Homo sapiens: one gene and its partner. The protein of the gene in region 2 purifies or fractionates together with the protein of the main gene of each other region. This does not show direct contact. Each region holds a gene or a part of one and is shown on either strand. Other genes may lie near its edges. The genes, in order: MARCHF8 and PARL.

Region 1 (3,823 bases), on a different chromosome or scaffold from region 2:
TCTCAAAAAAAGACATGTAAATGACCGACAGCTGCATGAAAAACTGCTCAGCATCCCTAATCATCAGGGAATAACAGATGTTGGTGAGGATGCAGAGAAAAGGGAACTCTTATGTATTGTTGGTGGGAATGCAAATTAGTACAACCAGTATGAAAAATAGTATGGGAATTCCTCAAAAAACTAAAAATAGAACTACTATATAATCCAGCAATCTCACTACAGAGTATTTCCCCAGAGGAAAACAAATTAGTATTATCAAAGAGATATCTGTACTCCCATGTTTATTGTAGCACTGTTCGCAAAAGATATGGAATCAGCCTAAGTGTCCACATCAATGGACAAACAGGTAAAGAATTCGTGACACATATACACAATGAAATACTATTCAGCCATACAAAAAGAATGAAATCATGTCATCTGCAGCAACATGGATGGAGGTCATTAGCCAGACACAGAAAGACAAATATTACATGTTCTCACTCACATGTGGGAGCTATAAAAATTTGATCTCATGGAGGTAGAAAGTAGAATTATAGGTACTAGAGGCTGGGAAGGGTGTGCATGGAGGCAGGAGTGGGGGATAAAGAGAGATTGGTTAATGGGTACAAAAATACAGTTAGATAGTCACAATAAGTTCTAATGTTCAATAACAACAGAGTAGGGTGACTACAGTTAACAATATATTATATACTTCAAAATAACTAGAAGAGAGGTTTAAATTGTTTCTGACACATAGACATGATAAATATTCACAGTGAGGGACACCCCAAATACCCTGACTTGATCATTACATAGTCTATGCATGTAACAAAATATCAGAGGTACCCCATAAATATGTACAAATAAACTAAAAAAAGAAAACCAATCAAATGTGATTTCAGATACTACACAATGATATAAAACTTTGAGTTTGTTCTTTAGAAAATGATTAAGCAAACAGCAGCAAGGGAAGTACATAGGGTGAGGACTGAGTGTGGATGGGGCATCTGGGGAACATCCTCCAGGATGGCTCGTGGGCCCACATGGTCAAGGACCCTGCGGTGAGGTGAAGGTCTGGGCAAGATGCATGGCGATTTCATGGGGGCTGCATTCCAGTGCCCGTCTTTGTATAAAGCATGTCACCTGTGGGACTCAAACTGCCTCAAACTTCTCCAAGCACCCAGTCAATTAAACAGATTTTTTTCCAAGGGGGGACATTCTGCTGCTTCTAAAAATATAAGATTTTCTACACACTGCTATCATTACAAACTGTGATAGGTGCTATGAAGAAAGAGTAACAAAACCCAAATGGGTGATAAAATTTAGACTAAGGGGAGGGTGTCAAGGGTAAGTGCCTCTAAAGAAGCTAAGAACTGAAAGAGAAATGAGTTAGGAATTTTAGCCATTCATGCAAAAAAGGGGTAAGATTGGGAGAGGCCTCTCGGACAGAACAAAAGGTGCGCAAATAGGAATTTGGCTTGTTTGAAAATCATCAAGGTAGACACCATACCTAGATCATCATGACCAAGGGGATATTGCACAGGATCAGGTTCCAAGTGGCCAGGCCCAGGTCACCTTAGATGTGACAGCTCAAGGTAGTGTAATCAGAAACACTGAAGAATTGAAAAGAGAAGCATTAGGAATTCTACTTACTGGCTACTGGGTGCTAGATGGTTTGGGATAGATTCTTGAGAAGCTACTGCAGGAGTTTAGGAGGCCTGGGCCTGGGAAGTGGCTGGGATGATGAAGAGGGATGAACCAATGGGCTGGGTATCAAGTGTCTAGCAGAACAGCATGCAAACATTGACTCAGCATGTACTGACAACCTCCAGGGCTCCATCCCATCACTGGTTCTGCAGATTTAGGGGTAAACAAAGCATGGCTCTACACTCATGAAGGTTACATGTGGGGTGAAGGTGCAATGGAAAAAAATTCATGAAAACCCAGGCAGTGATAAGTGCGATCCTGAAAAATAAAAGGAAAAGGTGACTTTGGACCCCTTAGGATGTTAATTGGAGGTGACAAATTTCATGAAATCCCTTGGTAACAGAGGCTCAACAAATGATATCCATTAACATTGTACTATCAATACAAAATAAGTATTGGGTGAAGACTTTGCCATTGTAATTGCTTAAATATCCCAATATGCTTCTTCTATTAACTCCTTAAGGGGATCAAATCCAGCTGCCCACTTTGAAGAGAGGCAAGCCACCACAGACCTAGCAGCCTCATAAACATCTCATCCAACCTACCTGCTTCCTTCTTTGAAAATGGAGCCTGGTTTTTAAAGTCAATATGCTTCCAATACACACTGAGACACTTTGTAATAAAATCTAGATGGAATACTAGGAGGCATGATTAAAGGTTTATTTTTTACCTCTTTTCAACCTCTAAATTTACGCCAGCAAGAGGTGAACTGCAGAAGCATAAAGCAGACTGCAGTGACTGGCTCATGTGCTGACCCCAGCTGGGGTCTAAAAGTCAGCAGAAAGTCTCCTGACAGAGACAACGGGGATTTCAGGTAGCATACAGTATGTCCACATTGTGGCCTCCTTTAATCTCAAGAGTATGTCTGCTATACTGAAGATACGATTTTACATGTCACGGCCTAAAACTGGCTTCAAACAGCAGGTTCATTTAATAAATACTCCAATAAAAAAACTGTCTTCTCAAAAACAGTTATCTTCCACAGGGGGCCTGCCCTCCCTTCCTTGGTCCCACTGAACTGGTTCATGTCTAACCACCTTATACAGCATGCTAACTATCTTCGTTACAAAAGGGTACACTTTGCAACAGAATTTCACGTTGACAGGTTAACCAGGAAGTTCTGTGAGTAATCAAATGTTCTAAAGGCTCACTCCACTCAGATACTCTCCAATGACCATAGTAAGCATCCCGGAACTCACTGGACACACTAAGTGTCCAGTCGCAAACAGCACACAGTAAAAATGTATTCAAGAAGGGGCCGGGCACGGTGGCTCACGCCTGTAATCCTAGCACTTTGGGAGGCCAAGGCGGGTGGATCAGGAGGTCAGGAGTTTGAGGCCAGCCTGATCAACATAGTGAAACCCTGTCTCTACTAAAAATACAAAAATTAGCTGGGCGTGGTGGCACGCACCTGTAATCCCAGCTACTCAGGAGGCTGAGGCAGGAGAATTGCTTAAATCCAGGAGGCGGAGGTTGCAGTGAGCCAAGATTGCACCACGGCACTCCAGCCTGGGCTACGGAGCGAGACTCTGTCTAAAAAAAAATGTATGCAAGAAGGAAAAAATAATGTATGGTTCTCCATTGTTCAGCAATAAATAATAAAGCTACCATTAAATGAACTGTCCTGGCCCAATCAACCTAAGGTCACCAGGATTCAACGAACTTTGACAAGAGTCAGGTTTGTTGGCTCAGTGTAATGGGTGAGCTGCCCCATGGTTCCATGCAAATGTTAATCCCAAGACTCGGAACAACCCTGAAGGTTGTATTATTACCCTACTTTTTTTTTTTTTTTTTTTTTTGAGACGGAGTTTTGCTCTTGTTGCCTAAGCTGGAGTGCAATGGTGTGATCTTAGCTCACTGCAACCTCCGCCTCCCAGGTTCAAGCGATTCTCCTGCCTCAGCCTCCCAAGCAGCTGGGACTGCAGGTGTGCACCACCACGCCTGGCTATTTTTTTGGAATTTTAGTAAAGATGGGGTTTCATCATGTTGGCCAGGCTGGTCTCAAACTCCTGACCTCAGGTGATCCGCCCGCTTCAGCCTCCCAAATTGCTGCGATTACAGGTGTGAGCCACCACGCCTGGCTTACCCTACTTTTACTGATAACTAAATTAAAGCTCAGAGAGATGTCCTTTTTCAA
Region 2 (3,823 bases):
TCTACTTAGTAAGCAACCAATAAAAACTCTCAGTTCAATGAAAGCAACTTGTCCTTATGGCAAAAGTTGATTAGAAAAAAATAAGCAGTCTGGGCAACATGGCAAGACCTCATCTGCACTAAAAACAAAAAAAATTAGCTGGGCATGGTGGCATGCACCTGTAGTCCCAGCTCCTGGGGGCTGAGGTGGGAGGATCAGTTGAGCCTGAGAAGCAGAGGTTGCAGTGAGCCAAGATCGTATCACTGCACTCTAGCCTGGGCAACAGAGCAAGACCCTGTCTCAAAAAATAAAATAAAATAAAATAAAAAGTAAATTGGCCGGGCGCAGTGGCTCACGCCTATAATCCCAGCACTTTGGGAGGCTGAGGCGGGCGGATCACGAGGTCAGGAGATCGAGACCATCCTGGCTAACATGTTGAAACCCCGTCTCTACTAAAAATACAAAAAAATTAGCGGGGCGTGGTGGCGGGCACCTGTAGTCCCAGCTACTCAGGAGGCTGAGGCAGGAGAATGGCATGAACCCGGGAGGCGGAGCTTGCAGTGAGCTGAGATCACGCCACTGCACTCCAGCCGAGCCAGGCAGATCACCTGAGGTCAGGTGTTCAAGAACAGCCTATCCAACACGGTGAAACCCTGTCTCTATTAAAAATACAAAAACTAGCTGGGTGTGGTGGCGGGCACCTGTAATCCTAGCTACTAGGGAGGCTGAGGCAGGAGAATCACTTGAACCTGGGAGGTGGAGGTTGTAGTGAGCTAAGACTGCACCACTGCACTCCAGCCTGGGCAACAGAGGAAGACTCCGTCTCAAAAAAAACAAAGAAAAAGAAAAAGAGAGGTGAGGTCCCTGTCCTCAGTGAAGGAGCTTACAGCCTATCCTCTGCATTTTGCTTGTAGCTATTGATAGGTAATTCGTCTTTTTTACAGCACTTCCATTAACTAAAGCATATTTCTTTCATATTATTTCTACCTTAAAATAAATTCACACAAGTTAGACTTACTTGAGGCTGGATTCGATGTGAAATATCTGATCATTGTCCGCTGCAGAGAAGGTACTCTCCATAAACAGAATACAAGGACATTTGCAGCTATAATACCTACAAAATAAATATTTATAATTTAGGGAGGTTAAAAATGAAAGCAGGAAAGTCTGATCTACATTACCCCCTTGTAAGATTCTTCCACAATTATGTAAGAGTACTGTATACCTGGGGGATAGGGGGTGAGCCAAAAAAAAGCAAGTGAAATGAATGCTTTTAAAGTATCAGCACTGCCTAGGGTTGGTAAAGTCACAGAATTCCTGGGAAATTGTAAATGCTCTGGGAGCTAACTTCCTTTCCCTAGATCCATATTTTACTTCTTTAGAAGAGCTTACTTTTCTCAATTATAATCAGATCAATAATTTATTGTCTATAATAGCCAAACCAAAGACAGAAGTAATATACAGAATTAGGTTCTTTGGCCAAGAGTAGAAGAGCTAACATTACTTCTTTTTCCTCAGGGCATGGTATGCTTCTTAAACTTACTGCCAGCTTATGGAAACATATGTGAGTCATCTGTGTAGGTGAAGGTCAACATGTCTGAGAAAAATAGTCATGTGATAGGAATTCAGGGATAATTTAGAAAACCTCTGCAACTGCTTCTAAAGTCTGTTTACATGTGGGAGTTGAGTGACTTTCCTTTTTCTGTAAGTGTTGATGTTGTTAGTACTACGAAATTGAGGTTTATTCGATAATATAATTAACTTGTTACATTTTAGATAAGAAATTATTATTGAAAACTACAAACTTCAAAAAATATATTAATTTTATGAATTGCCACAACTCCTTCACATAGCAGGTATTCCTCTACTTGTTGAATTAAAATAAACATTTGTCATTCCTCCAGTCTCTGTAGGCAACAGGCAAGTAGCACTTTCACCTTCTTCGATGCCAATAAGGACTGATTTCAATAACATACTGGTAAGAGGATTTACTTTAGAAAACATTCTTTGTCTTGTCCCTGGCAGCTGATCTACATCTCGGTGTTACCTGTGGCTTCCGCAGTTGCTCATTCTGTAAGGTTCTCAGCTAGCCCCTGGCATTTCTAGTCTGTCCAGTTTTTGCTCTCCCACTTGAGAGGTGGGAAAGGAAGCTACATTTTTCACAGATCTTAAGACATTTTTTCCATTTTAATATCTGAAATCAGGATGCATCTTATAACTGGTAGCATTTTTTCTTTCTCCGTAGTACATTAAATAAAATTTTACTGCATTTTGTTGAACTGATTCCATCAGTTGTATCAGATGTCTCACTAGCAGGGACTGTGACAGCATTATACCACCTTTGGTAAATAATTACCCAGAACTCTTTTAAAGATGGTGAGAGGGACAGCATTTATGCAAAGATGGGAAAAGGGATCATACACAAGGCAATGAAGAGCGAAGAGCACTGTGTACACCTCCCAATGTGGAGCCTGGAACCCTGGGAAGGGCAGGCGGGCAGAGCCTCCTCACAGGGACTGGAGTCTTGGGAGGTTTACCCTATAGGAAGAGAGCAGTGATTCGTGTTGCTCTGGATTCCTTAGATTCCTTTGGGAGAGTTAATCATCTTTACTACCCAGAGTGCACCCTTAGGTCTAGGTTGTCATACCCAGTGATTGATATCTTAGGGTAAAGACGACCTGAGAATGGTCTGGCCATGATCATAAAGATCGGATTGCTATGATCATGATCAGTCAGGGCTTTGGTGTTTTATTCTAATTGTGGTTCAAGGCAAAGAGAGCAAGATGGGGTCCCTGATCCTGCCTACTAGGCTGAAAAATGGCAACGACTACTCTGCTTCCTCTGTCAGTTCCATGGGCAACTTCCTCAAACCACAGACACACAGCACACCCAGCTTCTGGAAACCACAGGCACCACAGCACTGTCAAGACGAGGATATGTTTCTGGATAAAGTGATTAAAATAAAGGAAAATACATGAAAAAAAATGAAAGATAAAGGCCGGGTGCGGTGGCTCACGTCTGTAATCCCAGCAGTACTTTGGGAGGCTGAGGCGGACGGATCACCTGAGGTCGGGAGTTCGAGACCAGCCTGACCAACATGAAGAAACCTCGTCTCTACTAAAAATACAAAATTAGCTGGGCGTGGTGGTGCATGCCTGTAGTCCCGGTTACTCAGGAGGCTGAGGCAGGAGAATCACTTGAACCCAGGAGGCGGAGGTTGAGGTGAGCCGAGATCACGCCATTGCACTCCAGCCTGGGCAACAAGAGGGAAACTGTCTCAAAAAAAAAAAAAGCGGGGGGAAAGATAACCAAAGACATTGAGGTTAACAGTAGACAAAGAGTTAACACTGCTAAGTTTTCAATCCAAACGCAAGAAGCTTTTCTGATAAATAATGAGTACTGGCACTGAAACAGACTGTAGCCAAAATCCCTTACTTCATAAGCCAGTGGTCATCAAACTGCTTTCATGGGGCACCCCATTAGTAAACACCATCCATTAGTAACAGACACATCCCATATATGTATACTTATTAACAAATTATGTACGTGAACCACTATAAATTCATAAGACACACTTAACAAATTTAAAAGAAATAAGAAAAGTGAAATGCACATACTTTCTTCTTTGTAAACCCTATTCTGAAGGCCAGTTATAGATGAGAAAAACAGGCTCTAAAAGGTACAAGTTGTCAGAGGGCCAAATTCAGTGGCCAAGCCAGAATTCCTAATCTAGTGCTCTTTCTACTATACATCAAGACATGGGTAGCCAGGAGGATTTATTTTGACCTTGGTCACTCTAGGACTTCAGACACCACATAAAAACGGCTTCCTTGCTGGGAAACAG

Evidence for each region.
Region 1: the proteins of PARL (region 2) and MARCHF8 purify together in Homo sapiens (affinity purification with western blotting, with the first as the bait; one study listed by BioGRID). This does not show direct contact.

The regions. Positions count from the first base shown.
Region 1 is NC_000010.11:45,483,342-45,487,164, forward strand, and holds part of MARCHF8 (E3 ubiquitin-protein ligase MARCHF8), read right to left. Parts: intron 1-3,823. UniProt on the Homo sapiens protein: E3 ubiquitin-protein ligase that plays several important roles in innate immunity and adaptive immunity.
Region 2 is NC_000003.12:183,843,234-183,847,056, forward strand, and holds part of PARL (presenilin-associated rhomboid-like protein, mitochondrial isoform 1 precursor), read right to left. Parts: intron 1,094-3,823; coding exon 998-1,093; intron 1-997. UniProt on the Homo sapiens protein: Required for the control of apoptosis during postnatal growth. Essential for proteolytic processing of an antiapoptotic form of OPA1 which prevents the release of mitochondrial cytochrome c in response to intrinsic apoptotic signals.